Linked DNA regions of Homo sapiens. The protein of the gene in region 3 purifies or fractionates together with the protein of the main gene of each other region. This does not show direct contact. Each region holds a gene or a part of one and is shown on either strand. Other genes may lie near its edges. The genes, in order: AHCYL1, AHCYL2 and PITX2.

What was found.
Region 1: the proteins of PITX2 (region 3) and AHCYL1 purify together in Homo sapiens (affinity purification with mass spectrometry; 4 studies listed by BioGRID and IntAct, with this or other methods). This does not show direct contact.
Region 2: the proteins of PITX2 (region 3) and AHCYL2 purify together in Homo sapiens (affinity purification with mass spectrometry; 3 studies listed by BioGRID and IntAct, with this or other methods). This does not show direct contact.

The regions. Positions count from the first base shown.
Region 1 is NC_000001.11:109,977,441-109,988,306, forward strand, and holds the start of AHCYL1 (S-adenosylhomocysteine hydrolase-like protein 1), read left to right. Parts: upstream 1-7,324; 5' UTR 7,325-7,612; coding exon 7,613-7,732; exon of another isoform or gene 7,733-8,103; intron 8,104-10,866. UniProt on the Homo sapiens protein: Multifaceted cellular regulator which coordinates several essential cellular functions including regulation of epithelial HCO3(-) and fluid secretion, mRNA processing and DNA replication.
Region 2 is NC_000007.14:129,217,678-129,228,135, reverse strand, and holds the start of AHCYL2 (adenosylhomocysteinase 3), read right to left. Parts: upstream 3,107-10,458; 5' UTR 3,060-3,106; coding exon 2,697-3,059; intron 1-2,696. UniProt on the Homo sapiens protein: May regulate the electrogenic sodium/bicarbonate cotransporter SLC4A4 activity and Mg(2+)-sensitivity. On the contrary of its homolog AHCYL1, does not regulate ITPR1 sensitivity to inositol 1,4,5-trisphosphate.
Region 3 is NC_000004.12:110,620,050-110,630,698, forward strand, and holds the start of PITX2 (pituitary homeobox 2), read right to left. Parts: upstream 3,029-10,649; 5' UTR 2,412-3,028; coding exon 2,207-2,411; intron 1,585-2,206; exon of another isoform or gene 1,550-1,584; intron 1,321-1,549; coding exon 1,115-1,320; intron 1-1,114. UniProt on the Homo sapiens protein: May play a role in myoblast differentiation. When unphosphorylated, associates with an ELAVL1-containing complex, which stabilizes cyclin mRNA and ensuring cell proliferation.

The DNA.
Region 1 (10,866 bases), on a different chromosome or scaffold from region 3:
TTGGGGTTGGGAGATAAAAGACCCGAGCGGGAATGAGGCTTGGGCTTCACTGACTGGAACAGCCTCTCCATCCCCACCCCTTGATGTCTCCTCATCTAGCCCGAACAGAAACAGGGAAACACTGTGTACTTGCGACTCTCTTCCATCAGTCTCTTGAGCCCTTCCAGGCCCTCACATCACCCACTCCTTCCCTGAACCCCTATAAAGAGGTCAAAGGGCCAAGCGGGTCTGCAGGAAATGGCTGAAGGGCCTTTGTGGAGAGGCCAAGGTCCAAGCTCCTGGTTCTGGCATGAGATCCATCGTTGCCGTTGGTCTAAAATATTGTGTTGACCCTCCGTCAGGACTCTGTGGAAGTGTGGAAGTGGCATGAGCTCATGTTGGAGGCTGAAGAGCTCTGTCCTCACTGCTGCAGAATGGGACAAATGCTGAGGGTGTGGAGGACAAGGCTTAACTCTTTCCCCGGGGAAGAGGCCAGGCTTGCGTTGTGCATGTGGAGCCTTCAACCCTTAAAAGGCTGTCCAGGCAGAGCTCCTGGAATCGTGGAGGAGAAGGGAGGTTTTCAAGACCAGGGTTGAGAGGCATGAGGAGCAGCCTTGGGAATCCAGGTTGGTTGCAGGGAGGGCTTGAGAGGGTGAAATGGTTAATGGTTTGTTGAAAAACAGGGAGAGTCCCTCCTCCAGGGGCCCAGCTGGCTGCAAAGCCAGGAGCAGAGACTCCAAGGGTGATGCAATGGGGCCCGCCCTGCACACCAGAGAGGGTGAGGAAGGCAGGCTCCCACCCCGCAGCAGCCTCCGCACCACCAGCAGCCGACCACTCTCCTCTGGCTCCAGCAAACCAGCCACAGGCCGGGCCCTTCAGGGCAAAGGGGCAAGACCCTGAGCACCTGAGCTTTGGGAGATGGCAGCTTCTGTCTGTTCCACTCCATCAGCCCCAGAGCCTTTCCAGTCAAGACAAATCCTCTACTAGCCCCCAGCAGGCATCCTGAAGGAGTACCCACCAGGATATCAAACCATCCTGGCCACCTGTGTCTCTGCGATTCCAGGACTATTTCCAGTCCTAGAGGCAGGTTGCAGGTTATGGGTAGAGAGGCAGGCCTGGGAGAGGCAAAGACAGGCAGTGTCCTCCCTTATCCCAGAAGCTGACACTTACATCTCACCAGCCCACTCACCATTGCCCTGGGGGAGCACATCTGCCAGGGAAGCAGTATCCCAGAAGCTTCTAAAAGACTTGGGGCTACTTCAAGGGTGGGTCAGCATCTCTGAACTCGGGAGAGAGACTGCTCTTCCTTCCCTAGCATGGGGCTAGACACAGCCTCAGAAGCAGGGAGAGGAAGCATGCCACACACTCTGGAAGACCGCTCAGGGTGGGGCACATGGAGACAGCAAGGAGAGGGTGTGCCCTCTCAGACAGTACTGGGAACCTTGATTTTCTGACAAAGCTCTGCTATGGACTCTAAGCCCCATGAGGACAGGAACTGTGTCTGTCTTGTTTACTGTGGGATCCCTGGCGCTCAGCACAGCTCCCGAGACAAAGCTGATGCTCAGTAAATAACTGACTGGGCAGAGGCCAAAGTCCAAGGCCAGTTTCACAATTTCTACTTTTTTGGTAAACTCTTCACCATCCCCACCTCCATCCTCCCCGCTCCCATATACACACTTAAGAGCAGGAAAAAACATACAAAGTAGCACAAACAGTCATCAGAACAGATTTCTTGAACATTGTTTACAATTGGTGGATGCCTTCTCAGTATGAACTTTAATGTGTGGCAGCTTTGGGAACTGAAGTAAGATACATCAGGATCTCTGGTCCAACCTAGAAAAAAAGCATGTGAGGAAGTTCCAAGGGGCTGCTGGTCACACAGCCAGACCCCGGGGCCAGGTTGGGCCAGGAAAGCAGCAATTTCTCATGGCTGGGGCAGTGTCAGCCCTCCCTTTTGAGGAAACACATCCACATGTCAACAAGTACTCAAAACCAGCAATGACAATCCTTTCCTGCAGCAGACGGGTTTCTGCTTATTCCTGTCATTCCGGGAAGCGGAGCGAAGAGAGAATTCCAAATTCTCAACAATAGCTCCTTTGCCCTCCATGGTTAGCCTGGACCCACATCTTAGTACCTTACATTTGCACAATATTTGCAACTTGTTCAAAGCTTTTGCATATTTATGATCTTACTGGATTAGGTCATTACAAGCCCCAGATGGAGAGCTATCAACCTGTCTTGCATGAGGAAGAGGAGGTCAAAAAAGGTCCAGGATGCCAGTGGCCAAGTTAGTAGCAGAGTGAAGATTTGAGCCCACATCTCTGCCCAGTTTTCCTGCTTCCTCACACCATGCAGCCTCGCCATGAGTCAGCTATCACGAGTTCCAGACACAGGACCTCAGATCCTCTAGGGCCAAAAGGTGCCTCCTTATCCTGGTCCTTGTTTACAGTCATTATAACTGCCCCCACTACTTACATTTTTGCTCCCTTTCTCTGGCAGGAGCTGGTGCTGTGACCCATCTTCGCCTGTTTTGCTTGAAAGCCATCCCCACACCCACTCCGAAACCACCTCCCTCCATTCCATTATATTGCACTAGTTGGAAACAATTCAAATACCGAACAATAGGAAAACAGTTAAGCAAACTCATAAAGCAATATGACAGAAAGCTTGGAAAACATGGACAATAATAACAAGTATGTCAATGCTCTCCGTTCGGGTCATGTGTTTTTGAAATATTGTAATTTGATCAAAGCAGAATACAAAAGGACATGAACCTACCAATCACAGGTATGTAAAAATGAGTTTCTGCAAATTGCTAAGAACTAGGAGTGAACTTAACAAGATGAAAAGAAATTTTTAAAAAATCTTCATGGATTTTTCTTTCCTATAATGTTCAAAATGATAATAAAGAGTAAGTGATCCTAATAAATATGACAATAATAAGCAGAGGGGGAGACAGAGAAGGAGGAATGTTTTCCCACTGGAACTGGAGAAGGGGAAGGAGAAAAGGCTGAGGGTAGGGAGGGAGGGAGCTCGGTGGGAAGTAGGAGCCAGGAAGCCTGAGGACCAGCACCCACAGCCACAGAGGTGCAACCGGGAGCCCACCCTCTGGGGGTCCCTAAGGGCCAGCGAGGTAGGTGACCAATCTGAAGTGGTGCTCCAGGGCACCTTTCACAATAATTACAATGTCAGTGGTGCCTCCTAGAGCTGTGCAAGGTAGCAGTTCTGGGACAGAAAGAAGCCTGGAGCTGGAGGGTTTGCCCATGCTGGAGAGCTAGAGACAGAGCCACTGCCCTCTTCACCTTCTTCCGAACTTCCATTGTCACCCAAGATCTCTGCAGTTTTTCTGCACTTTCATTCCAGAGGGCTAACATAACACCTGGCCGACAGGAGGTGAAAGGCCTTCAGGAGGAGCACAGCCTCCCCCTGGTGGGGAGCCTGACTGGCAGGGAGCGGGCAGTTCCAAAAGGTGCCAACCTGGGCTCCCCTGAGACTCAGGGACAGTGCCCTCCACAGACATATCAAACTCAACATGTCCCAAGCTGACTCCTCTCAGCAGCCCCCCTCCACCCCTCTAGCCACACTTGCTTCTCCTCCTGTGCTCCCCAGCATGGCAGACATCACCACCACCCACCCAGGGCTTAACACGCCCTGCAGGATCTGGCCCTGGCTTCAGCGCTCACTTCACCCTGCTTTGCACCCTGTGCCCCACCCACATGGGGATATTTACAGTTCCCGTAATATGCCAAGCTGTTTCCATCACCATGCCTATTCTCAGGCTGTTTCTTCAGCCTGGAGAATCTTCCCTCCCTTGCCCAGCTGCTTATCTGTCAAGACTCAGCTCTGGCAGCATCTCCCTCTGTGTCATCCCTTTGCCCTCCACTGCACCCCACCCCCATCACCTGTCCCCACGTAGAGATCAGCACCTCAGCTTATTTATCTCTGTAGTCCCGACTGACATCTAGCCCTGCTGCTGGCACTTCTTCGGCACTCAATATATATTTTATAAATAAAAGAACAAATGACTGAATGTAGAACATCAATTTGGGGGTGGACAAACAGTGAATCTGATTAACAAGACCAAGCCCACGTGTGGTAGCCCAATGCCACTACATTTCTGGTGACAGCATCTCCCAATTCACCACTGCCCTTAGGCCACTCCTTTCTAGCAAGGGTCTTCGCTCCAGGCCCTTGGAGACTTCCCACCACCACACACAGCAGGTGCATCTGTCTTTGGGTCCCTGTTCTTCTCCAATTGCCCCGTGGGGGGTCTCTCACCTGTGTGTGGATGCGCTGTTCAGGGCAGTGAGCTTGCCAGTAGAGGTGCTGAGTCAGGTGGGTGGGTAGGCTGAAGACAAGTCATCTCTTGGCATTCATGAGAAGCAATCGCCTTAGCTGTGCCATGTGAGGCTATCTTAGGATGGGTTTTGGGGGTGGGAGACAGGATGCAATGATTCTCACGGATGTTATGTTGTCACACTCCCTGGCTGGGTGAGCTCTTTGCTCTCCAGCACACACGTGATGGAAGGGATGGCAGCCACCCATGCCCCCTGCAGTGGCTGGTTTCCAAGAATGTCCCGGGCCCCTGGCCTCACTTGAACCACATAGGCCTAATGCTTTCCACCAGGGTAGGGGGTGCTGCCCTTCCCCTTTCCAGTCTGAGTCCCCGAACTCTCCTACATCAGCTCATCAACCTCCCCTCAGGCCAGCCACTCAGGTGAGTGGAGTCTGACCTGCTGATCTCCTTCTTAGCCCAGACTGCTAAGGTACTGCATGCTCTAGGCCTGGCCCTGTCTGTCATCCTCTGTAGCAGCAGCAATAGCAGACAACACTGTGAGCCTGGTGCTAGGGCAGACCTGGTCCAGGAGGAGTAAAGACTGAACTTCAATCTCCAGGAAGCTCACAGTCTGGATGCTTAAATGCACAGCAGAACTGGGGGACTGAGAGACAACATGTTTAGACAAAGTGAGTTCTAAAAATCAAATCCAAAAGACAGATACACTGATGCTTCTCTTTAAAAAAAAAAAAAAAAAAAAAAAAAAGATCTTCTTAAGTCACACATTTTTCTACTATAGGGACTTGAGATTTCATCCCTGGTTCCAATGGGTTCTGCCTCGAGTCTTTGGGCAGGCATCTCTGATCCCTGGGCTCTGCCAACAGTTTGGGCAAACCCACAAGGATGAAAGCCACTGTGAGCCTTATGTTCAGAGAGTCCTTAGTGCACCAGGTGTGGTTCCTGACCCCTAGCTGAAAGATGTCAGTCTGGCACCCTCATGGATGAACCTGGTATTCTGGTCTCCATCTCTGTTCCCGTTCTGCTACAGTGATGCCCCTGACAGGGAAGTGTGAGTGCTCAAAAAAGTGAGCAGATGAAAGAATACAAACAGTTCAAGACCAAGGTCTGCAGATGTGCAAAGGGTGCATTCTTCCAGGCACTTCTACAGCCCTTTTCAAACAGACAGTCTCATGAGGCTAGGTGGCTGGAACACAGGATTCCCTGACTAAGACTTTTAGGGCCCTAGAGGTGAATATTTCACACTCTCCCCAGCCCTGAACACAAATCAGTGGGGAAAATGCCATTTCAAACCAAAACTTCCTTCTTGAAAGGGTATGCCCTGTTAAAAACCTGGGAGGTTTCTGGATGTTAAAAGGTGGTCCTGGCCAGGCGCGGTGGCTCACGCCTGTAATCCCAGCACTTTGGGAGGCCGAGGCAGGTGGATCACGAGGTCAGGATCCGAGACCAGCCTGGCCAAGATGGTGAAACCCCGTCTCTACTAAAAATACAAAAATTAGCCGGGCACGGTGGCGCACGCCTATAGTCCCAGCTACTCACTCAGGAGGCTGAGGCAGGAGAATCACTTGAACCCGGCAGGCGGAGGTTGCAGTGAGCTGAGAGCACTCCAGCTTGGGCAACAGAGCGAGACGTCATCTCAAAAAAAAAAAAAAGGTGGTCCTGGGGAGGAATTTAGGGAAAGGGCACTGGGAAGACTGGAATTGCTCAGCACAGCAGAGGAGAATCTGGCTTCCCAGAGTCTATCAAGGAAGGAAGGATGAGGTGCAGAGATGGGAAGGGAGGAACAGGAGGAAGCTAGATTAGATGGCAATGGGCTAGGGAGCGTGGTGGGATCTTGTGGCCATTGAGAAATCCCCGGGTGGTAAGACAGCCAAAATAACTTTTCAGAACATTTCAGAAATGTGTTCTTAAATTGTTTGCTGTGTGATGTAATCTCTCCCCTGTGACCCACAAACCTTTATTAAAAGTTTTACTACATGTTACAGCCTTATTTTGTAGTTGTTTAGCATGGGGTGGGGGTTGAAAGGAGAAGCGGCTGAATTGACCCCAGGAGCTACAGAAACAGTCACAAGACCAGAATAGTGAATAAAATGCCAGACAAGGCAAAAAAACTAGAGCCAGAGGTGACCATGAAAATCCAAGTCCTCCCAGTAATGGACTTTCCACAGGACATGGTAATTGGAGCCAATGTCATTTGAATCTCAAAGGACAAGCTACCTCAGCTGACATTAGGATACAAGCAGGTTTTGCCTCTCCAGCTGAACTAAGCCTTGCAAAACATAAAATGCGTCACATGTCCTTTTGCCAGCAGGGCCTCAGCACAGGCACTGCACATAGTAGGCCCAGTAAAAGGGTGTGAGCAGTCCATGAATGTCCTGGATGCCCACTGAGAGCTGGAAGGGTCTAATGCTTTGGTGGAGCAAGGACCGGAAGGCCATTCTGGCTGGGGACTTCTCCATCAGCTCTCCTGGTCTCCACCCTCATACCCATCAGCCCTATCCCAATGAGGGTTTTGTAAACAGGCAAGGCCCAGTCGGAGATGGTGGTGGAGGAAGTCACAAAGCGTTGTGCAGAAACCAGACTACTCTGAGTCAGTTCTGCCCCCTATGAAGTCAAAAAGACAGGCACGGCCCCTTGGGAAGGAGCTTTAATCCAAAGGGCCTGGGGCTGGGCCAGTGAGTGAGTGGGCTGTCTCGAGCCCCGGACATTTCCTAGGAATCGCTGTAGGATGTGTCGTGTGGGGCTCTGGTCTTTGCTCCCAAACACCCCTTTCATGCGCCTCTGAGGCCTTGCCAGGAACCCCGCAGCCCAAAGACCCTCCGTTCCGCAGCATCGTTGCATGAACCTCGCGCTGCTCCCAGGGCTGATGGTGCCACCTGGTGGCACAAAGGGTCCTGCTCACCCTGGGAACTTCGCTCTCGAGCGGGAGAGGAACGGCTTCTGTGGCCCAGCCCAGCGTGGTGACGTCACGACAGAGTGCCCTTTCTCCCCGCCTCTTCCCCCTCCCGGGAGCTGCCAGTACTTGACGTGGCGTCACCGCCCTCTACCCTCGCTTTGCGTGCGTGTTTGCGTACAGCGGAGGTGGCGGCGCGGGCAGGTCGGAGCTCGGAGCTGCTGTTCTGGTTCTCTTGTGGCCGCCGTCGCTGTCCGGCTGCCTTGGGCTGCCGAACAGACAAGGCGTGGGCCACAGCACCTCAGAAGCCGACGCAGCTCGACGCAGGGGCCGGCAGGAGGGTGGGCGATCGCGTGTCGGAGGGCGCCGCGCGGGCAGGCGGGCGGGCGCCAGAGGGGGAAAGAGGCGGGGGCGGCGGGTCAGCCGCTGGCCGGGCCGGCCGGGGAATGTCGATGCCTGACGCGATGCCGCTGCCCGGGGTCGGGGAGGAGCTGAAGCAGGCCAAGGAGATCGAGGACGCCGAGAAGTACTCCTTCATGGCCACCGTCACCAAGGCGCCCAAGAAGGTGCGGGGGCTCTGGGTGGCGGCGGGGGCTCGGGCTCCGGCCTCGCGGAAGGGACGCGAGCAAGCCCGGGCTCTGGCTAGTTTGGGACTTCTGGGGGTGACTGGGGACGGCGGAGGTGATGTAGGGGGTGGCGGCTGTGCGGCCCCAGGCCTCTCCCGGGCTGAAAGGCCGCCTCTGACCTCGCTTTCCTTTGTCCCTCGGCCCAAGTCCTCCGGGATCGTTTTGAAACCCGACAGGGCCAGGCCTTAAATTTGCGACTGACTTTTCCTGGATGAAGGGCCTCGAAGACGAGAGTGGGAGGGGGTGAACCAACTCAGCTGACCCTTGTGACCAGTCCGGGGGCATGGGGTGTACAGAAAATCTCCCTTCAGGTGAGTGGGTAAATCTGGCAGAACTTCCATCAAATCTTTGGGAGCAGTGGCCGCTTTATCCAACAACTGCGTGATAGCTGGGAGGCAAGAGAAAAGAATGCGTGAAGCTAGCTCTGATATACAGGTGAAAGCGATGAGGGTAACATGAAACTGAAAATCTATGATTTTCACTTTCTACAGCATTCCAATTACTTCGAAATATGTAAGAAATTGACATTTGGAGGTTGGTGACAGCAGACACTGTCATGGATACAGGTGGATCCTAGAGTCATGTGAATAGATCACTTAGGCATCCCTGGAGAAAGGAGCTTGGGTGGGTTGGAGTAGTGGGTGGTAAGGGAAGATTGCTCACTCTTGACTGTACTTTTGAGGCAGAACAAGTTTGATCTATTGTGCTGTAGGTTGACTCAAAGGACACCCTTCGAATTCTCTCATAAATGGCAACCTTTGGAGATTTTAGTCTGACTAGCTCTCCGAGTGGTGGAATTGGGATCCTTATTGCTTTCTCATCATTTACTGCCAACCACATCTTGATTTTCCATACACCTGGCACCCAGTTAGCAGTAGACCAGAGAACCTTTACAAAGAGGTGACCTTCCTGAAGCCAGTGAGAACCCAGATAAATGTCTCCCTTCTTTATAAAGACAGAGTCTTACAAAGCTGTCTCTGCCTGCATCCAGTGTTTAATGGGATGCAGGGCTGAACAAAGCAAGGGCTGCAGGAATAGTTAAGTCCTTGAGGCTTCAACTAGTTAAGCTGTCTTAAGTGGGAGAGATGGCTCTTTTTTTTTTTTTTAAGTGAATTAACCTGCCACTCCAGAAATCAAATGCAAGATCAAAAAAGACGAGTCGCCATTGTGTGCTTTCGCTGTTTTCTCACAAAATTAAGAATTTAATTCCTTTAAAAGATTGTGGAAGATTCCTTGACTCTGAGGCATCTGATTAACTTTAGTGCTGAGAGTTCAGTTGACTGCTTTGTTGGGACAATGACCCTTTGCAATCTGCACTATTCTTTGGAGAAACAGTCACAGTCCTTATAAGCAGAATGATTGAGGGTGGGACCTTAGATGAGTTAGAGGAAAGAATGGGAAAGCCCTAATACCTGAATTTCCCAGACTCTGTCTTCTTTGCTGTTACTTGCCTTTATGTTAGTAAATCTGTATTCTTGAAAGTACCACTGTTGATAAGACAAAGTCTATATCGTAGATTGTAAAAACTCATTAAGGCAGGGATTCTTGTTCACCTTTGTATCCAGTGTGCCTAGCTTTGTACCCAGCATACAGTAGGTACTCAAATATTAATTGCTCACCTGGCTAACTAGTAACTGAGATGTCCATGTGGCCACCTACCATGAATAACTATCCCTTTTCCTCTCTTCTTCCCAGGAGGAATATTACTAATGTGTATTATTGTCAGGCCAAGTGCTGATGATTTTAGACTTATATTGCATTAGCTAAAAGAAGCAGGCTCTGCCAGGAATGTGGGAAGACCCTGTTTTAAGTTTCCATTTACCAGTAAATGTGCCCCACCGTGTTTCTTATTAATCTTTCTCTTCTAAGTTTTATTCTTTAGCATTTACGTAGTACTTTGTAATAAAGTGTTTCATGATGACTAATTACCCTTTCCCTAGTGATGATAAAAGACATTTATTAAGTTAATGGATCAGTTGAGGACTAGTCAAGGTCACATAGCAAGTCCTAGGCAATCTGTTTTTCAGAACTGCTGAATTGAACATTAAGACTTAAGTCACTTTTGTACCTCTGCCATGTGTTGATAACGTGAAAGCATGGGAAAAGTAAGAGGGAAAAAAGTAACTTGGCATGGTACTTAATGGTGTGAGAAAAAGACCTCTTCAAATGGTGCAGTCCTTCACCTATGAGAATTCTACCCTGGCTCTAGACCAGTAATCCTTGGATTATTCTGAAGCCCTGAGGCCCCTCAGGAATTGAGGATGTTCTTGATGCCAGAGGATATAGGTTACTTCAGGGTGACCTTGATGGTCCTCAGTTAGATCAGATCCCAGTGTCACTTTCTGGTCAGCTTTTATTCATTTTGTTTGCTTTGTTTGAGACAGAGTCAGCTTTTATTCATTTTGTTTGCTTTGTTTGAGATAGAGTGGATGTCCATCAATTAAAAGCATAAATATCTAGATTCTTCAGCTATAATCATGACTTACTCAGTTTTGTATGCCAAGGTCTATCACACTGCTATGAACAAAATAGGACTTGTTGGTTTGATTGAAGATTTGAGATGTCTGGGTGTCGAGAAGTCAACTAAAGGGATATGACCTTGAGCAAATTAATTAGCTTTTGTACCTGCATCTCCTCATCTGCCAAATAAGTGCCTATTTTTTTTGGAACAGGTGGAGATAGGGGCATGTTGGGGAGTTAAGATAGCAGTGTAATTTTTTAAAAGTCTATTCGTATATTTATATTCTTTCTTCAATGGGCATTTGAAGTGGCTTATAACACAGAACATATATGTGATATAAAAGGAAGTAAAAACTATAGAAAGAATGAAAAAAATATTGTTAACCTCGAGGGCTAAGATAGTTGATGAGGTTGATCACATGCAACTTGAAACTTTTAGCAGCCAGAGGATGAAAAGAATCATAGTTACAGTCTCCTTAGCAGGCATGGGAAATAATACATGTCAATTCCTCAAGGGGACGACTTTTCCTGACACAGAGTTCTAAAATAATTTTTCACGGGAATGTCTTAATAGCTGTAGTGTAATTCACATTGTAAGGCTTGTTCACGACTGT
Region 2 (10,458 bases), on a different chromosome or scaffold from region 3:
TCCTTCATATGCTATAAGAAAAACAGTAAGGAGTCAAGGTCAAAGTGGTTATTTACATAGACAATCTAAGAATCAACAAAGGCTCAACAAATCAAAATGTCACACTGCAGTTCCTTGGTGAGATGACTTTCAACTTAGGGAAAGGGCAGTCTTGGGCACTTATTTTGATTTAGCCAATTCAATATCAAGAAGGTTAAAGATTGGGCACCTGAAAAGCAGCTCAGCAATGCCCTGAATTTCGTCATCCAGCTGTATCCTTGCCCAGAGCTTCACCTGCTTAACTTTCAGCAGAGAAGTTGTTTTTTTGGTGCAATTAACATTGTAAGGCAAGCTCAGCCCTGCTTTACAATAGCCTTGAGGCTGCTGAGTATATCTACAATCATGGAACATACATTTGGTGCTGAAAAAACAGGAAGATGGTTCAACGACAAGGAAAGTGGTCAAGAAGCACATCTAGAATTAAGAAAAACAGACTCCAGTATGCTGGTCTTTGATTTTTTAACTTTTTTTTTTTTTTTTTTTTTTTTGAGACAAGGTCTCACTCCAGCACCCAGGCTAGAGTGCTCATTGCAGCCTCAACTTCCTGGGCTCAGGTGATCCTCCCACCCCGGCCTCCTGAGTAGCTGGGACTATAGGCACACACCACCATGCCCGGCTCTTTTTTTTTTTTTTTTTTTTGGAGAGAGAGGTTTTCACCATGTTGCCCGGACTGTTCTCAAACTCCTGGACTCGAGCAATCCACCAGCCGTGGTTTCCCAAAGTGCTGGGATTACAGACGTGAGCCATGATTTTTTAATTTCTTTATATAGAATATATTGAACTGTGTGTAACTTTCAGAGGTGGTCATGGGGGCTTGCACTTAAGCCATGATGGGAGGAATAAAATAAAATCAATTATTCATAATAATAAAAGCATTAGTAAGAATATCATTTAAGACTTTATGTGCCAAGCTCAATGCTAAACCTTTTACAAATATTTCTAATCCTCAATCATAATTAGTACTTTCATTTTATAGAAGAGGAAACTGATTTGTGTAATTTGGAAATTACCCAAAAGGTAGTAATGGGGGTACTAGGCTTCAAATCCAGGTCTGCCTGACTGTAAACTTCATGCTCTAAAAGCAATTTGTTAAACACTTTTAGCCTAAAGAAATCTAACCAAATTACAAAGTTTAGACAAAAACAGTCTTTATCACAAGAAAATGACTTAACGATACAAAGTATCTCAACAAGTCAGAAGTATGCTTTGGATTTCCAGACTCAGATCTAGGTACTCCCAGCACTGGTGCTGCTGCTGCCTCTCTTTTTTACTTTACTTTTTTTCTTTAAACCCATTTCTGCAGGATGCTGCCTCTTTCTACTCTAATTCTTCCCAGAGGAGTTTCATACTACAAACGACAAAGACATTGTCTAAAGCATTACAGAAATTCCTTCAGTCTTGCCTCTGACTTATCACCTAAATTTGTATCGTTAGGATGAAAGGATTATCCGCTATACCTTAATCATGACGCTATGACAACAAAAAGTTATGGTGGATCCAAGGTTCCAATTCAGCTGGTCCCACACAGTAAAACCAATGCACACTTCCCGTCTCTTTGTTGCTGTTCTGATAAAGCAATTAAAAACCATTCACAACAATTTAAAAAAAACATTAATCCCTGTGCCCATACTGTGTCTACGAAATTGAAGCTGTAAGCCCTTTTTATATGATCCACACTTCTGTCTTTTCCAATACTTGCCCTGTTTTTCTGTGCTGATTCAGCTTTAAGAGAGAAAGAAAGACAAGCTTTGAGAGAGACAGACAACTATGGATAGACAATGTACGGGTAATACAGGGCTATCATCCACCTAGGCAGTTACTTCTTGGTATTCTGAGACCTCCTCAAAACTGTCTGAAAGAAGCTGACGCCTAAGACCGAAAACCCCACAAAGATCGTCTTTCCCAAAAGTAGCAGCATTTCTTCCTATCACTTTCAGATTATAATAAAGCAATCAATAAGACATTCATTCTCTTCATACACAGCCTAATAATCCTGGTGACCAACTATACCCAGCAGGGAGGACAAAGCTCTTAACACGAAAGAGTGAGGAGAATCTCTCCATTACCCTTTTACATATTCAGGGAAGAGAGAATATCGCAGTCGCTGGAAATGAAGGGCACAGCATCGTGTTGCTGTATGGCCACGGTTGGCCACAGAAAGGCAGAAAGTCATCAACTGTATGGAAACCAGACAACTCTGACGATTTCTATGCAAGGTGACTACACCTTACTCGTTCTCCAAGTATTAAAGATCTTTTCATCCTTATTGCTGTGTGAACTCCCGTGAGCGGTAAGGTTTTTCTATACTATCGAGGTCTCTTCCCCGATAGGCTGGAAAATCACACCCGGGAGCGTGTTGGGGCCGCGGGACGTACTATTAGGTGTCTCTCCTCCCGCTGCCTATTCCAAGTAGTAGGGGAGAGCGCTACCTCCATGTTATTCAGAGCGAAGTACGGCCGTGCCTCCTGGAGTCTCCGCTCCCAGCACGAGGGGCCGGCTGGGGGGCATCTCTGAGAGAGTGGGTTTAAGGGGACAAGGGGTATCTCCGGTCCTGCGATCAGAAAGGAGGGCGTGGAGGGTGGTGCCGCCGTGCCGAGAGGATCTGCAGTTCCCCTCCCCTCCCTTCCTCTCCTAGAGAGGCAGCCCGGCCCCAGTACCTTCTTGACTGTGCGCGGCGCCTCGGTGACGGTGCCGTCGGGGCTGACCAGGGCCTCGCCGCCGTCGCGGTGCCGCTGGTGCTGGTGATGTGGGTCGCTCCGCTTCATGGCCGACGCCTGAGGCACCTTCCCGGCGGCGGGGCTGAGAGCGGCGGCGGGCCCCGAGCCCGGGCCGGGGACCGGGGGCCGCTCCGCGGCGGGAGCTGGAGCCTCAGGGTCTCCACCGCCCGCCGGGGGGGCCATGGCGCCCACGGCGGCCGTGCTCAGTCCTAGTTGCGACTCCGCCTCGGAGGGGCTCAGGTCCTTCAGCTCCACCTCAGGCACCTTGGCGGCAGCCGCGGCTGACACAACCTGCACCGACATCACCGCCTCCGCTGCAACCACCGGCTCAGACTCCAGCTCCTGCTCTTGGTCGGCCCCGCCTCCCACCTCCCTTCCTCTTCCCTCCCCCATGTCCCCACTCCTCCCCTCCATCGCCTCCTCTCCCACCCCCTTTCTCCGCCCGCCAGTCCCGGCCCCTCCAGCCCCGCCCCGCCCCGTCCCGGTCTGGCCTCGCGCGAGGCGCCACGGAACCTGTAGTGCGTTTGCTCCCGGCCGCACGCGGCGAGAAGACCGTGGGACCTCAGGCCCCGACCTACACTGCGCGCCCCATGGGCGGGGCCCGCAGCGTCCCCTGGGAGTTGTAGTCCTTTCAGCCTTTCCTCCACTAAGTGAGATTCAGCCGAGGAGAGGGAGCGCTAGGGCCGGCAGCTAACAGAAAGGAGTGAGGATAGGTGACTCGACGGAGGGGATGAGGAAGAGAAAGTCTCCAGAGGAGTTGTGACTTCCGGGGAGGGAACGCCAAGAAGCCTTAGGGGAGGGGAAGTGGTAGAGGAATGGCTCGTTGTCCTGACAGCGTGAAGTTCCTCCGCGCGTGCCCGTCTGCGATCACGTGAGCGAGTATTTAAAGGAGAAGCGGCGGCTCCAGGCTGGAAGTGGCTTTATTTTTCTTTGTGATATTGAGAACTCAACACCCTTCCAAACTTCAGTGGCTTTGTTTTTAGAAGGGATAAAGTAGGACCTTGCTTGCTGTGGCGCTTTCTGTCACATTCTGGGTTTGGAAGCTAAGATCATTCCTCAAAGAAGTTAGGTATCACTAGATCAAAATTCAAGGCTGAGGAATTACACGTTGCCTTAAACGAGGCCAAATCTTTTCACCTATAATTCTAATAGGGCAATCATCTGAAATTCAGATACATATATCAGCATAGAGGGATATGAATAGTGAATATGAGTAGTTAATTTCCTAAGTGATGGGATTTAAGGTGATTTTTACTTTGTACTTTTCTGTATTATTTTTAAATTTTACATTTAGAGGATGTAAGCAAAAAGACATGCACCGCAGCGTCCTTTTTAATAACAAAAAACTGTCTAAAACTAATGTCCAACAAATAGAGCAATTGTTACAGCCTTTGAAAATCGTTTGCCAGCTGGGCATAGTGGTTGACGTCTGTAATCCCAGCACTTTGGGAGGCCAAGGCCGGCAGATCACTTGAGATCAGGACTTCAAGACCAGCCTGGCCAACATGGTGAAACCCCATCTCTACTAAAAATACAAAAATTAGCCAGGCGTGGTGGCGGGCACCTGAAATCCCAGCTACTTGGGAGGCTGAGGCAGGAGGATCGCTTGAACCTGGGAGGCAGAGGCTGCAGTGAGCCAAGATCATGCCACGGCACTCCAGCCTGGACAACGGAGTGAGATGCCGTCCCAGAAAAAAAGGAAGAAAGAAAGAAAATTGTTTGCCAATACTTTTTAACAACAAGGTTTTCCCTTTTTCATTCTTTACTCTGAAAGCCAAAATGTGAAGAGGAAGCTAAGAAACTCTTGTGTCTGGTACACTTGTGAGCTCTGTGGAAATGGCAGTGCTCAGACGCCTTCCGATACATAGTGTGAGGCACAAATTTGGCGATCAGGAAATGAGAGACTCCAAGGCAGGACAACTTCACGAAGTGAAGATTTCCAAAATCGTAATAGCACAGGAAAGAAGATCAAGGCATTCTGGCTTTCAGAATAAATGCTTATGATAAAAACATTAAGCTAAGAAGCAAGAGACAAAATTGCACATGCCATAAGATTTTATGTAAAGAATACTTTAAAAAGCCTGTAATCCCAGCACTTTGGGAGGCCGAGGCAGGCAGATCACGAGGTGAGGAGATCGAGACCATCCTGACTAACACGGTGAAACCCCGTCTCTACTAAAAATACAAAAATAAGCCGGGCGTGGTGGCGGGCGCCTGTAGTCCCAGCTACTCGGGAGGCTGAGGCAGGAGAATGGCGTGAACCCAGGAGGCAGAGCTTGCAGTGAGCAGAGATCGCCCCACTGCACTCCAGCCTGGGCGACGGAGCAAGACTCCGTCTCGTAAAAAAAAAAAAAAAAAAAAGAATACTTTAAAAAAACAAAATGCAGTTGACTCGCGACAGATTATGGGGGGGGTTCCTCTCTATGCTCAGAGAAACAGGAGCAAAGGGGTTCATACAGTTTACAGCTGTTTCAGAGACTTACAGCCCTAACAACCCAGGCAGCCACTGGACAGCTACTCTTTAGACATCTAGTCTTTGGTGTCACTGTGTTTTGCCTGGCAAGGAGAAGGAAGGAGGCCAGGCATGGTGGCTCACACCTGTAATCCCAACACTTTGGGAGGCCGAGGCGGGTGGATCACTTGAGGTCAGCAGTTCGAGACCAGCCTGGCCAACGTGGTGAAACCCCATCTCTAATAAAAATACAAAAATTAGCCAGGCGTGGTGGCTTCTGCCTGTAGTTCCAGCTACTCAGGAGGCTGAGGCAGGAGAATCCTTTGAACGCAGGAGGTGGAGGTTGCAGTGAGCCGAGATTGCACCACTACACTCCAGCCTGGGCAACAGAGCAAGACTCTGTCTCAAAAAAAAAGAAGGAGAAGGGAGAGAAATCACCTGCCTCGATCTTCTTTCCTGTCCTACTATTTTGGAAATCTGTTCACTCTGTGTGGTTGTCCTGCCTTGAATGGAGGCTCTCATTTCCTGATCTCCAAATTTGTGCCTCACAGTACATGTCGGAAGGCATCTGAGCACTGCCATTTCCACAGAGCTCACAAGACACAAGAGATTCTTAAGTTTTTTCTTCACATTCCGGCTTTCAGAATTTCCTTCCTGTTAAAAAGAAACCAGCCCAGAGCTTCATCCTCCAGCTGTCGGAGCAGAGATTAGCAGCTCTGTAACTGATTTCATTCTTCCCCCTAATGCTCAAGGGAGCTACGGTACAGCCACCTGGCATGTGTTGGAGCTCATAGGCAGCAGCTGCCTACCTGCCACTAGAATTGATTACTGAGAGGATGAATTAATTCTTCAGTGTGATGTGGTTATAAAATATAAGGAGTTAGAGCACTGGAATGAAACTGATACCCTGTTTTATTCCAGTCACCACCACTGATTGGGGCCAACCATCAGGACACATTCTTCAACCTGTTGTCAACTCCATCCCTACATACCTGCTGCTTCTGCCATCCTTGTAGCTGAGGGACACCAGGTACAGTTGAAGATCAAATTACATACTAGAAACAGGGTAATTAAGCACCAGTTTATGAACTATTTAATGAAATATTTGGACTACAGGTCTTCTTCCTTCACCCGGCTCATTCAGCTTCCAGAACGCTGGCAAGCAGGAATGTAACGTCCATGCAGGACATTGGTATAAAAAAGAATTTCTTTTTTTCTTTTTCTTTTTTTTTTTTTGAGATGGAGTCTCGTGCCATCGCCCAGACTAGAGTGCAGTGGCATGATCTCGGCTCACTGCAACCTCTGCCTCCTGGGTTCAAGCAATTCTCCTGCCTCAGCCTCCCGAGTAGCTGGGACTACAGGCACGTGTCACCACACCCGGATAATTTTTTGTATTTTTAGTAGAGACGGGGTTTCACCATGTTAGCCAGGATGGTCTCAATCTCCTGACCTCGTGATCTGCCCGCCTTGGCCTCCCAAACTGCTGGGATTACAAGCCTGAGCCACCGCGCCCGGCCAATAAAGAAGAATTTCTTGGCCAGGCACGGTGGCTCACACCTGAAATCCCAGCACTTGGGAGGCCAAGGCGGGCAAATCACGAGGTCAGGAGTTTGAGACCAGCCTGACTAACATGGTGAAATCCCGTCTCTACTAAAATACACAAATTAGCTGGGTGTGGTGGCACACGCCTGTAGTCCCAGCAACTCGGGAGGCTGAGGCAGGAGAATTGCTTGAACTTGGGAGGCAGAGACTGCAGTGAGCTGAGATTGCGCCACGGCACTCCAGCCTGGGCAACAGAGCAAGACTGTGTCTCAAAAAAAAAAAAAAAAAAAAAGAAGAATTTCTCTGAGGTATCTGACCAATCCAAGAGAGAAAACAAAGATACTAACATTGAGAGTTTCCAAAGGAAATAAGCCAGCCAGATCACCCGCCCTGAAGACCATACTCATGTTCACAGAGCTTCCGTGAACAATTTAGTGTCACATTCTTAAGTATGAACAGACAACCAAAGTCACCAGACATATGAAGAAAACTTTGGTTTTTTGTTTCGAGACAGAGTCTCACTCTTGCTGCCCAGGCCAGAGTGCAGTGGCATAATCATAGCTAACTGCAACCTCTGCCTCCTGGGCTCAAGCAATCCTCCCACCTCAGCCTCCCAAGTAACTGGAACTACAGGTTTGCACCACTACACCTGGCTAATTAAAAAAAAATGTTTTTGGTAGAGTAGGGCTCTTGCTATGTTGCCCAGGCTGGTCTCGAACTTCTAGTTGTTTTTTTTTTTTTGGAGACGGAGTCTCGCTCTTGTTGCCTAGGCTGGCGTGCAGTGGCGCAATCTCGGCTCACTGCAACCTCCGCCTCCCAGGTTCAAGCAATTCTCCTGCCTCAGCCTCCCGAGTAGCTGGGACTAAAGGCACCCACCACCATGCCGAGCTAATTTTTCATATTTTAGTAGAGACGGGGTTTTACCATGTTACCCAGGCTGGTCTCAAACTTCTGAGCTCAGGCCATCTGCCTGCCTTGGCCTCCCAAAGTGCTAGAGTTACAGGCATGAGCCACCGTGCCCAGCCTGTTTTTTTGTGGTTTTTTGTTTTTTGTTTTTTTTTAGATGGAGTCTCACACAGTTGCCCAGGCTGGAGTGCAATGGCAGGATCTCGGCTCACTGCAACCTCCGCCTCCCAGGCTCAAGCGATTCTCCTCCCTCAGCCTCCCGAGTAGCTGGGATTACAGGCACGCATTACCACATCCAGCTGATTTTTTTTTTATTTTGAGTAGAGATGGGGTTTCACCATGCTAACCAGGCTGGTCTTGAACTCCTGAGCTCGTGATTCACCCACCTCAACCTCTCAAAGTGCTGTGATTACAGGTGCTAGCCACTGTGCCCAGGCTTGCTTTCCTTTTGAGCAGCGGGGAGAGTGGGGTGGGGTATTGGTCAAAGGGTACTTTAGCTAAATCTGTTATACTTTTCTTTAAAAAAAAAAAAAGATCTGAAGCAAATATGATAAAATGATAAAAAGTTGATAATTCTGAGTGGTGGGAATATGAGTGTTTATTAGGTTGTTCTTTGTACTTTTCTATATCGTTTCAATTTCTTAAAAACAAAAGTAGGCTGGGCATAGTGGCTCATGCCTATAATCCCCACACTTTGGGAGCCCAAGGCAAAAGATCACTTTGATGCCAGGAGTTCAAGACCAGCATAGGCAACATGACCAGACCCTGTCTCTAAAAAAAATTTGTTTTTAATAACATTTGTCTGGCATGATGGTACATGCCTGTAGTTGTAGCTACTTGGGAGGCTGAGGCCGGAGGATCCTTTGAGCCCAGGAGTTTGAGGCTGTAGTGGGCTATGATTGCACCACTGCCCTCCAACCTGGGCAACAGAGCAAGATTCTGTCTCTAAAAATAAAAATAAAAAAGCAGGCAGAGGCTGAACACGGTGGCTGATGCCTGCAATTTCAGCACCTTGGGAGGCCAAGGCAGGAAGATCACCTGGGCCGAGACCAAGTTGGAGACCAGCCTGGACAACATAGTGAGACCCCATCTCTACAAAAAATAAAATTAGGCTGGCATGGTGATGTGCACCTGTAGTCCCAGCAGCTTGGGAGGCTGAGGCAGGAACATCGCCTGACCCAGGAAATTGAGGCTGCAGTGAGCCGAGATTGCATCACTGCACTCCAGCCTGGGCAACAGAGTGAGACCCTGTCTCAAAAAAAAAAAAAAAAAAAAAAAAGAAGACAGAGGAACAACACTCCAGCATGGGCAACAGAGTGACACCCTGTCTCAAAAAAAAAAAAAAAAAAAAAAAGCACAGAGGAACAAAGATGGGCAGTGGACAGACTGCTTTAAGGAAGCTGGAACAAACAGAGGCAAGGCCAGCTGAATTTGAAAGAATGGTAAGAGGCCCAATGAGGCAGCTGAGGGCAGAGCCTGTGATGAGGGGCACGCATGGGGAGCTGTGTTTTCAGGGCAACAGCATAGCAGGGAGTCCCCCAAACTGGGAGTCCCACAAACCAGGCTCCCCTTGGATCCTGAGGGGTTTCTTTGGGGATCTCACTCAGGAGCTTTTGGTAGAAGGGTGGTTACTGTTGTTCAGTCCTGAGATTGATGCTCCCGTAGGGATACTACTGGAAGATTTCTTGGTTGTGGGAGTGTCCATGGTGCTGGACATCTGCATTCACAAAGGTGGGCTCACATTGCCCCCTAGTGGCCACAGAGTCTCTGCACAAATGTCACATTTCTCAGCTGTTTTTTTGGAGACAGGGTGGTGCTTGCTGTAGCCCAGCGCCCAGGCTGGAGTGCAGTGGTGCATTCTCGGCCAGCCTTGACCCTCGCGGGCTCAAGCAGTCCTCCTACCTCAGCCTCCCGAGTAGCTGGGACTATAGGCATGCACCGCCACGTCTGGCTAATTTATTTTTTGTAGAGACACAGTTTCGCCATGTTGGCCAGCCTGGTCTCAAACTCCTGGACTCAAGTGATTCTCTCGCCTCAGCCTCCCAAAATGCTGGGATTACAGACGTGAACCACAGTGCCTGGCCTATTTCTCAGCTTTTAAGGCCCAGATTGAACTCCCCTTTCACCCCATCTCCCATCCTTTACATAAGTAATCCCACTAAAGAAAGGATAGAAGGAGGGAGGAAAACTAGTAGTCAACTGTCTTTGGAGATGAAAAGAAGAACATTGTAACACTCCCCTTTGTTTCAGAAAAGATCCTTAAACAGCACTGATAACTTTCATTATTTTAAATACTGTTGTTGATAAAGGCTAAAAAATAGCTGTAACAATGCTAAGGGAAGCAGTAACGGCCGGGAAGAACAAGAAGAGCAGGTGTAAGAGGATGTGGGATGGCCAGAGGGAACATAAACCAGGAAACCTGGATAGAGAGAAAAATCAAAGGCGGGATTAAGCGTGGAAAGAGCCTGGACACTAGTCAGGAAGAGCCTGGACCTAGTGTCTGTCACTCACTAGCTGCGGGGTAGCAAGCAAGTCATTTTGCTTCACTGAGCTTATATTTTCCAATTAAAATGGCAACAACTGGCTGGGCTCAGTGGCTCACGCCTGTAATCCCAGCACTTTGGGAAGCCAAGGCAGGTGGATCACCTGAGGTCGGGAGTTTGAGACCAGCCTGACCAACATGGAGAAACCCTATCTCTACTAAAAATACAAAATTAGCCAGGTGTGGTGGTACATGCCTGTAATCCCAGCTACTTGGGAGGCTAAGGCAGGAGAATCACTTGAACCCTGGAGGTGGAGGTT
Region 3 (10,649 bases):
AACTAAAACCATTTTCAACTTCTTCCCGGCCTTTTATCCACCAGCATAGCCTCATGCCTTGCACAAATGCCACCCAGAGAGTGTCTTCATTCCCTCTGATTTGGGAGAGCATTTTGGTCTTTATTCTTTTTATCGTTGTTTTCTTCTTTTTGTTTGCTCTGCTCTAACCGGGGGCTTTATTTTTTCTACCCAGAGCACTTAATTTTTTTTTTTTAACAGCAAAGCCTCTGGATGCCGCTTGATTTGCTTGATTCTGTTTTCTGCTTCCAGAATCCTAACAAATTTGGAATCTTCCACCGACCAGCATAAACCAGGACGTTGCTATTGGGTTATTTATTTGAGCTCATTTTTGCCAATCCATAAAGTACAGATTTGCTACAAAGTTAAGGTAAGCCCTTTTTACAAAACTATGATTATAATTTAGAAGAGGGGGTGTGAGTTTCAATTTCCAGAGTTCAACTCCTGAGAGAAGATAAATAAACCAAGCAGAAAAGTCTTTCTTCTTTTTTTCTTTCTCCTTCTAAGAGGACTAGTAGTTGTGTATTAAAACTTTGCTCCCGGAGATCACAAAACTAGGAAATAGGGTGTGTGGGAGAGACCTGAATGGCCGAAACAACCGTAAAGAAGGTGTAAGAAGCGCGAGCCCAGGAGGGAAAAAGCTGGGCCAGGGCCGGGACAAAGGTTTCCCAGGGAGGGCCAACTCTTCCGTGTCTCTGGCGGGTTTTCCTTGTTAAAGGCTCACAGGTTGGAGCCTGTTCGCGGCTCTTGGCCTGGTAGGGATTTTATTAGCTCTGCTCTGGCAACTGCAAGCCAGGAACACAATGTCCTGTGCAGGGGATTGCCCATGCAGCCCAGCTCGTGAGATCGCGGGATGGCGGGGCAGTGAGCCGGTGCCGCTCTGGGAGCCTGAGCCAGGGCGGCAGTCCTGTCGGCCTCGGAGAGGGAACTGTAATCTCGCAACCAGGCCGCCGCGAGGCCTTCTGCCTTTGCAAAGCTGCGCCCCACCGGCGCCCTCCCAGGCGGCGCTGCCTTCCACATTCTCTCCTGGTCTACTTGGCCTGTACCTCCACAACATCCTCCCCCCATCCCTCCCAGACTCCGTGCTGGCTCCTACCCGGACTCGGGCTTCCGTAAGGTTGGTCCACACAGCGATTTCTTCGCGTGTGGACATGTCCGGGTAGCGGTTCCTCTGGAAAGTGGCCTCCAGCTCCTGGAGCTGCTGGCTGGTAAAGTGAGTCCGCTGCCGCCTTTGCCGCTTCTTCTTAGACGGGTCCTCGGCGCCCACGTCCTCATTCTTCCCCTGCTGGCTTTTATCTTTCTCTGAAAACGAAACACACACACTTTCCCGTCAGCATGCCCACCTGCAACGCGGACGCCAACTGGACCGGCGGCAGAAGCCGTGGAAGAGCTGGGCTGCCTGGCGCCGGAGGAGGGTGCGCGCGGCGGCTCCGGGCCGCGAGGAGCGCTGCGCCTGTGGGGTGTGCAGGCGCAAGTGTGGGTGTCCGCGCCCCATTTCCTCCCCTCCCCCAGCGCCGCACGTTTTATTTACATGTTTATCTCACTGCAGCGGCACATTCACTTTTATAGCCTGTGCTTTCAAGTATATTTATACACCTCTGCGCAGACACACCAAATCTCCTGGGACGCGCACACGCGCGTGGTTTACAGACCCCCCTCCCCCTCGCAGAAAGCTCAGATTTCCATGCGGTTTGGGAAGGCTAGGAAAAGATGTGGGGATTCGGTTGGGCACCGAAGTTCGCCGGCCCTTTCCCAAAAAAAAAAAAAAAATGCCTCTTCGCGAAGGGCATTTCTGAGTGGTTTCAGGCAATTTCCTAACGAGTGGAGCTCCTCGGGAGCTGAAAGCCGAGAGGAAAACAGGGACAGAGGTCGGCGGCCTCTGAAGGTCCTCGAATCAAGATGCTGGGATTTTTGTGACCCAGGAAACAGAAGGGAGGCCAGGGTACGAATAGAGAGGGCGGCAGAATTGCTCGCGCCCTTAGCGCCCCAGGAGCCGGGCCGGTCGAGGGAGAACTAAAGGGATGCGGGGTAGTCAAAATTCCGGCTCCCGGAAGTTCTGCGGGGAGCCAGGCGAACGACCACTCCCACCACGCCTCCCCCCGGAGGGGCTGACTTCCTTGGGGCGAGAGGGAGCGGGTGGCGCAGAGCAGCTGAGCGGGAATGTCTGCAGGGCGGCGCGGCGCCTTACCTGCGGCCTCCGGGCTGGAGGTGTCGGAGATGGTGTGCACCTCCAGCCTGTGCTTGGAGGAGTCCAGCGACCGGGGCTGACCGGGAGCCAGAACCGAAGCCATGGCTAACGGCTGGGGATGGTGACAGGAAGATGAGGAGACGGCCGACAGCTTGGTCCCCGCTGCTCGGTGCTCCAAGTGAAGCGGGCCTTTCATGCAGTTCATGGACGAGGGAGCGCGACGCTCTACTAGTCCTTGGCTACTGCCCCGCCGAGCCCCCGTAGCCGCCGCTGCCCGCTCCGGGTCGCGCTCTAGGCGCGGAGTTTCCCCGCTGCGGGGAGAGCCAGGGGACGCAACCCCCGCCGAGTTCTCAAGCCAAGCTGCCCCCGTCTCCTCCGGAAGGCTCAAGCGAAAAAGTCCGGAGACGGAAAGTCAGCGGGCAAACGAAGACATGGGATGTGGGCAGAAGGGCACCACTCAGAGCGTCTTTAGGGAGCAGGCTTCCAAGCTCCAAAGCGAAACAAGAGTGGGCAAAGACCCCCTTCTTCTCTCCCTCCCTCCCCCAAGAACCCCTCCAATAAGGAAAGCTAACGCCGACCGCGCTCTGCCCGCCCCCCCCCCACGCGGCAGCCCTGACAGAGAAGTGTCAAGAGTGACAGGGACAGGTAGGTGATATTAGATCCCCTGCGGCGGCAGCAGCCGCTGCAGCCACGACGCGGCCCTCTGAGCGCACCCTCCGCAACGCGCACACGCACACCCCTCGGGCGGTCGAACAGGAGCCGGGCCTTGCCGCAGCTCAGCTCCAGGCACCCAGGCGAGCGACGGACCAGATCTGCGGCTCCGCGCTTCCCTGTTGGCCTAACATCTTAAAACCAGAGGCGGGCTTCCTGGTGCCGAGACGTCACTCCGCCGCGGCCCTCCCCAGCCCTCTCCGCCTCCGCCTCCTCCCAGACCCTTCTCCGGGTGCGACTGACGTGGCTCCGCACCAATCAGGACGCCCCGAGCCGCGGTGGAGGGACTGTCCTGCCTGCACCTATCAGCAGTGCGGGGCCGGGCTACTGCCTCGCCGTGCGCACTGGGTCTACACAGGCAAGCTCCCGGGAATTCAGCTCCTGCCCAGCCCAAGGCGATCCGGCTTTTAGTACGAACCCAAAGGTGAAGAGATGAGGCTAGGAGTCGAAGGCTTGGGAGAAGAGAGTGGAATGGTCAAGAAGAGAAAGGTACAAGGATCAACAAGACACCCACTCTTTGTGTCTCACTACATCCATTTCCAATCCCCCACCCCATATAAAAAGGAGACACGTTACTTAAAACTAGAAAATTTGAAAAACAGCAACAAATCACCTCTCCGATCTTAAATTTTCCAAACAGCCTGTCAAGTGAATGCTGCGCTAATCTGAAGAAGCTTTAATTGCAAAGAAGACAGAGCCCTGAAAAGGCAGGCTAATAAATTAGAAATCGAGAAGCAAATGGACCCGTCAAAAGAAAATTACCTTGACTTTAAACGAACAACTGTTTGGTGGTTCACTCTGGATTTATACAAGAATAAAAAGTCGCCTCAGATCACGTTCTCTGTGATGCTTATTAGTCCCCAGACAGAAAACACACAATAGAAGAGAAACCCTAACCCAGCGTTTTCAAAATGCTGAAAGCTTATCCATTCTACTTAACGTTGATTAAGACACATATCCTAGATCTTTCAAATTCCTTGTACACTGTATTAAGCTCGTCCTAACCCGAGAGAGCCACGCTTTAAATTCGACTCTCTTGTTTACTTTATTATCAATCAGATTTAAATCCATAAAGCCTGTAGAATCAACAACCTTGAGCTAATTATATATGAAATATGCCTTAATGAATTTCCATACAATTAAGAATGTTGCCAAATAACCAATTTCAAGGATAATTTTTAACAGTCATTTTCTTTTCCCAGTGAGCTCAAGGCTGTCTTGAGCCATTAAAGTCCAAGCAGGCAGAAGGGGTGTGTGTGAGCTAAGGGCGAAAAGCCTAGAACTGCGCTCAACTAGCAAAAGCAAAACCTTATTTATATAAAACAAAAAAAATCACCTTTGGAGACATCAACTCTTTATAGCACTGTTTCCAAGCAAATTTAATTTCCAAAGAAATTAAAGAAAGAAATCCAAACATATTCAAAATAATTTTTGAAAGTCCTTTTGTCCCCCAGCATAGGTCAGCTGGAGAGGACAAACTAATCTCCTCTGGGTTTCTGCATGGGCGATTGTTTTACTATGGAGTTAGTGTTATCATCTCTGAATGTGTATTTGTTTGACATTACAGTCAATGATTTGCAATGCCAGCATGAAGTATCTTTAAAACACTCCCTCCTTGTCCTTGTTCACAAGATTGGGAAACTTATTCGATGTGGAACAAAGTGGATGAAGCAGACTACAAATATATTTGCAACTTATGTGTCTCTCCTTTGCCCTGACCACCCCCAAACCCTATCTGCAACTCCTCCCCATTTTAAACTTGCAGTCCAAAGACGCACATGAGAATTGTTTTTCAGTCTTTCTTCACCAGTATCATCCCACTTTAAGAATAATTTAGCTGCAAGGGAGGAATTTCTTCATAGTAAGCTTTAAATCAGCATTTCTGCTTTTAACCTTTTATTCCACTTTACCCCATTCCACACATACAGACACCTGCTCAGAGTAAAACACATCCTCATGTGACAGGTCTGCATTAGCTGAGGCTCATACATCCAGCTATATTAGGTCCTGCAATCTTATCACTAAATTATACACATTACACTAGCAGCCTGTTGGTAAAGAAGGTTAAATTAATTTACATTCTGCTCATTATCTGGTGCTTAAATGACGCATTTTATCCCGGAGATTTGGCGGAGAATCTCCTTCTCAGACCCCACAGCGTTTCACTGAAGACAATGCTCTTACATTTGTAGTGGTTTTTAATCTGATAAGACTCTAATTTGCTTAAGTCTTTTAAATAAGGGTTTTAAATGTTTCTAGCCGTTTTCTTATTGAATTTCCTCTAATTCCCCCAAGATCATAAAGTATATGTGTAAAGTAAATATTTCCTCCCATTGCACTGCCAGCCGATGACCTATAACTAAGTCAATAAGAATCCAGCTCTTTTCTGCTGAATGTGTTTACTAATCATATTCCAGTTTCTTCTTTTAAACCTCAGAATAGCTGTGGTCCCCACAATACCATGCCCCTTAAAGCTTCATTTCATGAAGGGACTCCATCACATTAAAGAATGAAAAAAATCTCCACTGTAGTTAGTATACACAGCCCCTCACTCCTTGTTTTTCAAGATTCAAACCCCAGAGCTGCAAATATTTTTGGAAGCTTGGGTGTTAATGCCTTATTTTAGAAAGCCGAGAAGCCCCACAGAGCCATATAGATTTCTAAACCCATCTCTCATAAACCCACAGAATTTTGATAAAAGCTCTGGTGGCTCCACTCTACCGATGGAACTTTCATCACGACAAATATACATGTATGAAGGACCTCAATCAGCCTCCAAAGTGGTTGAAAAACCCAAGGGCACGTGACTGCTCCTCATAGTGCCAACGTGTGCGAGATGTTGGAAGCACTGGGGATCAGCAGCAGCCTAGATGCCTAAAAAGATAAGGTGTCCTAATTTGTGTGGACCCATTGAAGTCAAGTGGTGAATAAAGACAATTATCTAGATAATTCAGATTAAAGTAAAAGCAAAACCATATCTATTTGTATATATATATTCACATCCATTTTATATTACAGACACACACACGCACACACACACTGGCTCTGTAAACAACTGACTCAAAGTGAGGATTTTCTTTGCATTTTTCCAGCAGGAGTTTCAACATTCTCCTAATCTCCTAATCACTTTACACACTCACAGCAGCGGCGATTGGGTGACATTCTTCTCAGGCCCCCTGTGTGGCAGGACACCAACATGATAAGTCTGCATGGGGAAAAGGAGGTATGTGGTGGGAACTAAGAAACACTGTCCAGTGAAAACTCTGTGGCATGGTGGTGGTTGATTTTGGAGATTTAATGTACATAAGACTTGTGGGTGCACAGGCATAGGCAGCATGGATGAGAAAGGGGCCAGAAGAAAATAAATCTTATGCATTTTGTGATTCCAGCATTACTGTGACCTCTGGCTAAGTTCTTCTTAATTGGTTTTAGAAATTACTATGAGTTCAGCCTCTAACACAGAAATTTCCAATACGGAGAACATTGGTGGGATCCTGGTAGGGAAACTAGAGGTGCTGCATGGCTCACGTGGGGCAAAGAAGGAAAGCCCAGTGCCGGCGTGAGGTTTTGAGTCTGGGAGACATCAGGGGTTGTCTCGATTGGGGTTTCTTGCTTATTCTTTCAAAGAAAGACCCTAGAGGAGGGAAATGTGTGACATGGGGTCAGCCGTGTTTTGTGCTGGTATTTGCCACCGATTACCAGTCTTAAAGTCTTATTTAATTTCACACTCTTCAGTGTTAGTTGTGCAAAGTCCCTCTGGCCATGGCAGTGAGCGGTTGGGCTGTGCCGCCAAACTCTCCGTATCAATCTGGCCTGGGACTCAACCAAGTGATCTCTGACTTTTGGAAAGAGTCTGTCTTCAGAGTTCACCCAGAAGATGGCTTAATTAGACATCTCCCTGAGCTGTTAGGCCTTAGACGGGTGGGAGTCCTGCCCTGCCCAAGCTAGCTCAAGGACGAGGCCCGCCTGGACTCAGCTTGGAGCCACGTGATGGGCGTGAGTGTGTGAGCTCCTGGTAAGGCGCAGAGGTCAGATGGAGACCTTGCATCCTGCCCGAGAAGTGCCCCACCCCCTCCAATATCTGGCTTTTCTCTGCATACAAACCAAGCTGAAAACAGTCCACTACCCACCACCCCTCATAGCTATGGAACCAAATAACCCAGAAATTAAAAGCTTCACTGTAGCTGTCCTTTTCCCCATTTCCTAAATGGAATTTAAAAAGCTCTGGCTTGTCAAAAGGGGAAGATTATTTTCTGAATTGGAAGTCTGTAGATATATTGAGCAACAGCCACCCTCTCTGGGTCCCTGCAAATGGTACCCATTTTTCCAACCCACAGCTCTAGCTGCTCAACCATTTGAGATTTGGGGTAACTACCTGGGGGAACAGTGTTCAGATGGCAGTGGGAGTTACCACCTCACAGTGGCCTGGGGAAGAGAAGAGAAAGAGATTAGAGGAGGGGGCATTTGCTAAAATCACTCAACGAACATGCTGTTAATGCTTCCTCACATTTGCATGTTACTGCCACAGTTTTCCTAGGTGTCACTGAGTCTCCAGAAAGCAACTACTTGCCGAACTAAGTAAAATAAGGAGAATGGTATAGCACATGTGTTTGGAGAAGGGGAAGGAAGGGTGGAATATGAAATTGAGCATAGATATCCAGGTCAGGAAAGAAGGAAGTGGCAAGGGGCTAAATGAAGTCCCACCCCCCCGCCACTTTTTTAAACAACAGTTGGATTAAACACTCATCTGTCTTCCTCTTTTTCTCTTTTCTTCCCTCTCCAGCTTATGTCCATCTCCCTTTTCTATTTCTTTTGCTCTCCCTTCTTTCTGTTTTCTCTCTCCCAGACATGCTGGTAGCTAACATTCAGCATTAGTTGTCATGGTGACCATAAATCACCTAAATCCAAAAATACCCACCTATAATCTGAGATGAAGCTTTTATTTCCCTAGCGAAATAATATTTTAAAAGCTGTCAGCTGACAAAAAAAAAGGAACCCACCTCATTGTAGTAACCCAAGTAATATATTACTTCTAAAGGTTTAAATTAAAATGTCAGCCTGTTAAAAACATGCTGGTAGAGTCTTGGACACTCTTCCCGTCAGATCCTCACAAAGAAGTTGACTCTGTCATTCCTGGTCGCTCTTTAACATACACACACAATTCTGTATGCTCTCTCCCTTTCTATTAATTTCTTCCTCCCCTACCAACTACTTTAGTTCTCAAAGACTCTACGCATTGGGTTCTAAAAGAAAAGAATCTCCTCCTGGATCAGAAAACAGCCTCATTGGTTGCTGAAGTGAAAGATGTGGGGTTTAGGGGGAAAGGTTATTAGGACCATAATGGCGGTGGTGGTAGGAGGTCATCCTAGAGGAGTTAAGAAGAAAAAAAAATGCAGGGAGAAGGACTGGAGGTGGAAAGACAGAGTAACAGAAAACTGAGCTGGGTGGTCAGGTGCTGCGGTGAAGTCTAGCCCCGAAATGATAGGTATATATTCTCCCACTCCTGCCTTTTTCTCCTCTGAGAGAAAACTTTCCTAGTCAGAGACCCTGGGGGGTAGGAGGCGGGCAAACGCCGCTGCAGTTGGGCCTTTTGTCTTCTACCTTGGGCTTGTTGTCTTTTGCCTATCTTGGATTACAGGGTATTCGCCTAGATGAAGAGCCATTAATTACCCATTCAGTCAATATTAGGAAGACGACAAAGCTTTTTACATAGGATTAAGAAGACATCAGATTGTTCCATTAGTATATTCCTGCTCACGAATAAGCTTTCGTTATACATTTCCTTTTCCCCCGAGCCGCTCTAACAACTGCTGCATATATTAGCAGCGGGCGGTGAGGAATAACAGCCGAACCAGCCTTAAGAAACTTTGTGTACCGAGTCAGCAGCGAGGAACGCGACCTGTGAAGACCACTTTTGCGGGCAGGGATCCGCAGGGACTGACTACTTTCGGACAACTGGTACAATTTCCCCTGGGGGTGAAAAACCACAACGCGGCGGGGCACCTTTCAAGTGAGCTGCAGATTTGATTGGCGCGGGGGGTGGGGGAGGGGAGGGGAGAATGGGATGGCGGAGGTCGGGCGGAGGAAAGAAAATGGAAAACTCTCCTTACCCCTATTTCGTTGCTTTTTCCTCAAGCCTCATGCCCCCTTCGGCAAGCACCTGTCCCTTCCGCGCTAGCCACAGCTAGAGTTCTCCACCTTTCTCTACACATCCCCTTCTTTCTGACAAGGCTCAGGACCTTGGTCACCACCCCACGCACCACCATTTTGCGTTTTGCTAGAGACGGTCTGGGCTGATCTCGCTGGTGTCCATGTTAGGATTAAAATCCCTTCATGACGGCGAGGAAAACTGTATTATTTGCTTTCAGGGGGTACATTAGGAGTCCACGTAGTATATGCTCCGCAAACATTCGCTGATTGAATGAGAGGCGCGGGGGCGGGGCGGCGGAGAGGGGTCTGCGGCCGCCAAGGCCGCCAGGGTTAACCCAGGTCCTTCGAAGAAGGTTGGGACCGAGCTGCTGCCGCGTGTGAAGGTGTGTGTCGCGGCTGGGGGTGCCACAACGGGCCATGGAGCCCACCTCCCAGAGGGAGGAAGTCTGTGCACACCAGCGACTTGGGTCGAACACTTTCAGCCCATCCACTGGGCCAAAGCTATTTAACAATTAATGCGTTCCTGGGGGAGGCCGGGGGAAGTACCCGCCCCTTGTCGGGACGCAAAGCCAGGCGTCAGGTCCAAAGGGGCTGCAGTGCAGTCCGATTTCAGCACGGAACCCAGAGCCGCCGCCCTGAAACTTTTTAAGCCAGTGACAGAGGAGGGTCAGTCCGTCCTCCTCCTGAGGGTGAAGACCATTTTATGAGTTCCTTTCAGGACCCCCAAAGCAAGAAAAGCCAAAGAAAGGTCTCTTTGCTCTAGGGGGTCGTTCTCAGCTGGCTTCTACACCATCTTCTGCTAGCTGCGTCCACCCTCTCTCAAACCTCTGGCTTTTAGGGGTCTCCAGTCGCTCTCGTGCTACCCCCGTTTCGGGGTTCTATCCAGGCTGGGCATCCGCCCAATGGATACCAAGGAGAATGGGACTCACTAGGGAAGGAAGGCAGAGCCTGGACTGCTTAGAGGTGGACTCTGCCTATACAGAACGTTTAGTCTTTAACGAGGACATGGTATTTTTGGGCGGCGTTGGGGGCAGAGGCGGAGAGGGTAGCGTAATAGACTATCACGGCCTTTTGAAGAAGTCATATGTCATTGTGAACTTTTTTTCTCTTTAAAAGCAAAGAAAAACTTTAAAAAAACACAAGAAATAAATCCTTTTGTTTTACAAGCAGGCTGTGGCCAGGACTTTGGATATTCCATAAGTTAACTTAAAATCAGGGAAGGATAGGTGCTCTATCCTTCAGCAGTGCTATAGCTTTGCCCACTCGTGTGATTTTTTTTTGTCGTCTACTAGTTCCTTAAAAGCCAATTAAATCAAGATTTTCAGCATTTCTTCCCATTACATGCCTTTTCTTAATTAATGGCATTAAACGTGTTTAGGCAGCAATTTTTCTTTTCGGTCAAAAAGTAGAAAAAGACATATTGAGTGTAGGGGAAGAGCCTTTCACGTGCACTAAAACAATGCGGGCCTGAAAGTAATGGTTAAGAAAGCAATCATTCATTATTTCTAGTTCTTTATGTGCTAGTTATCAAAAGCGAACGACCAGGGGCGCCTGCGCGGCTTGTGACTGGCGCAAGCAGAAC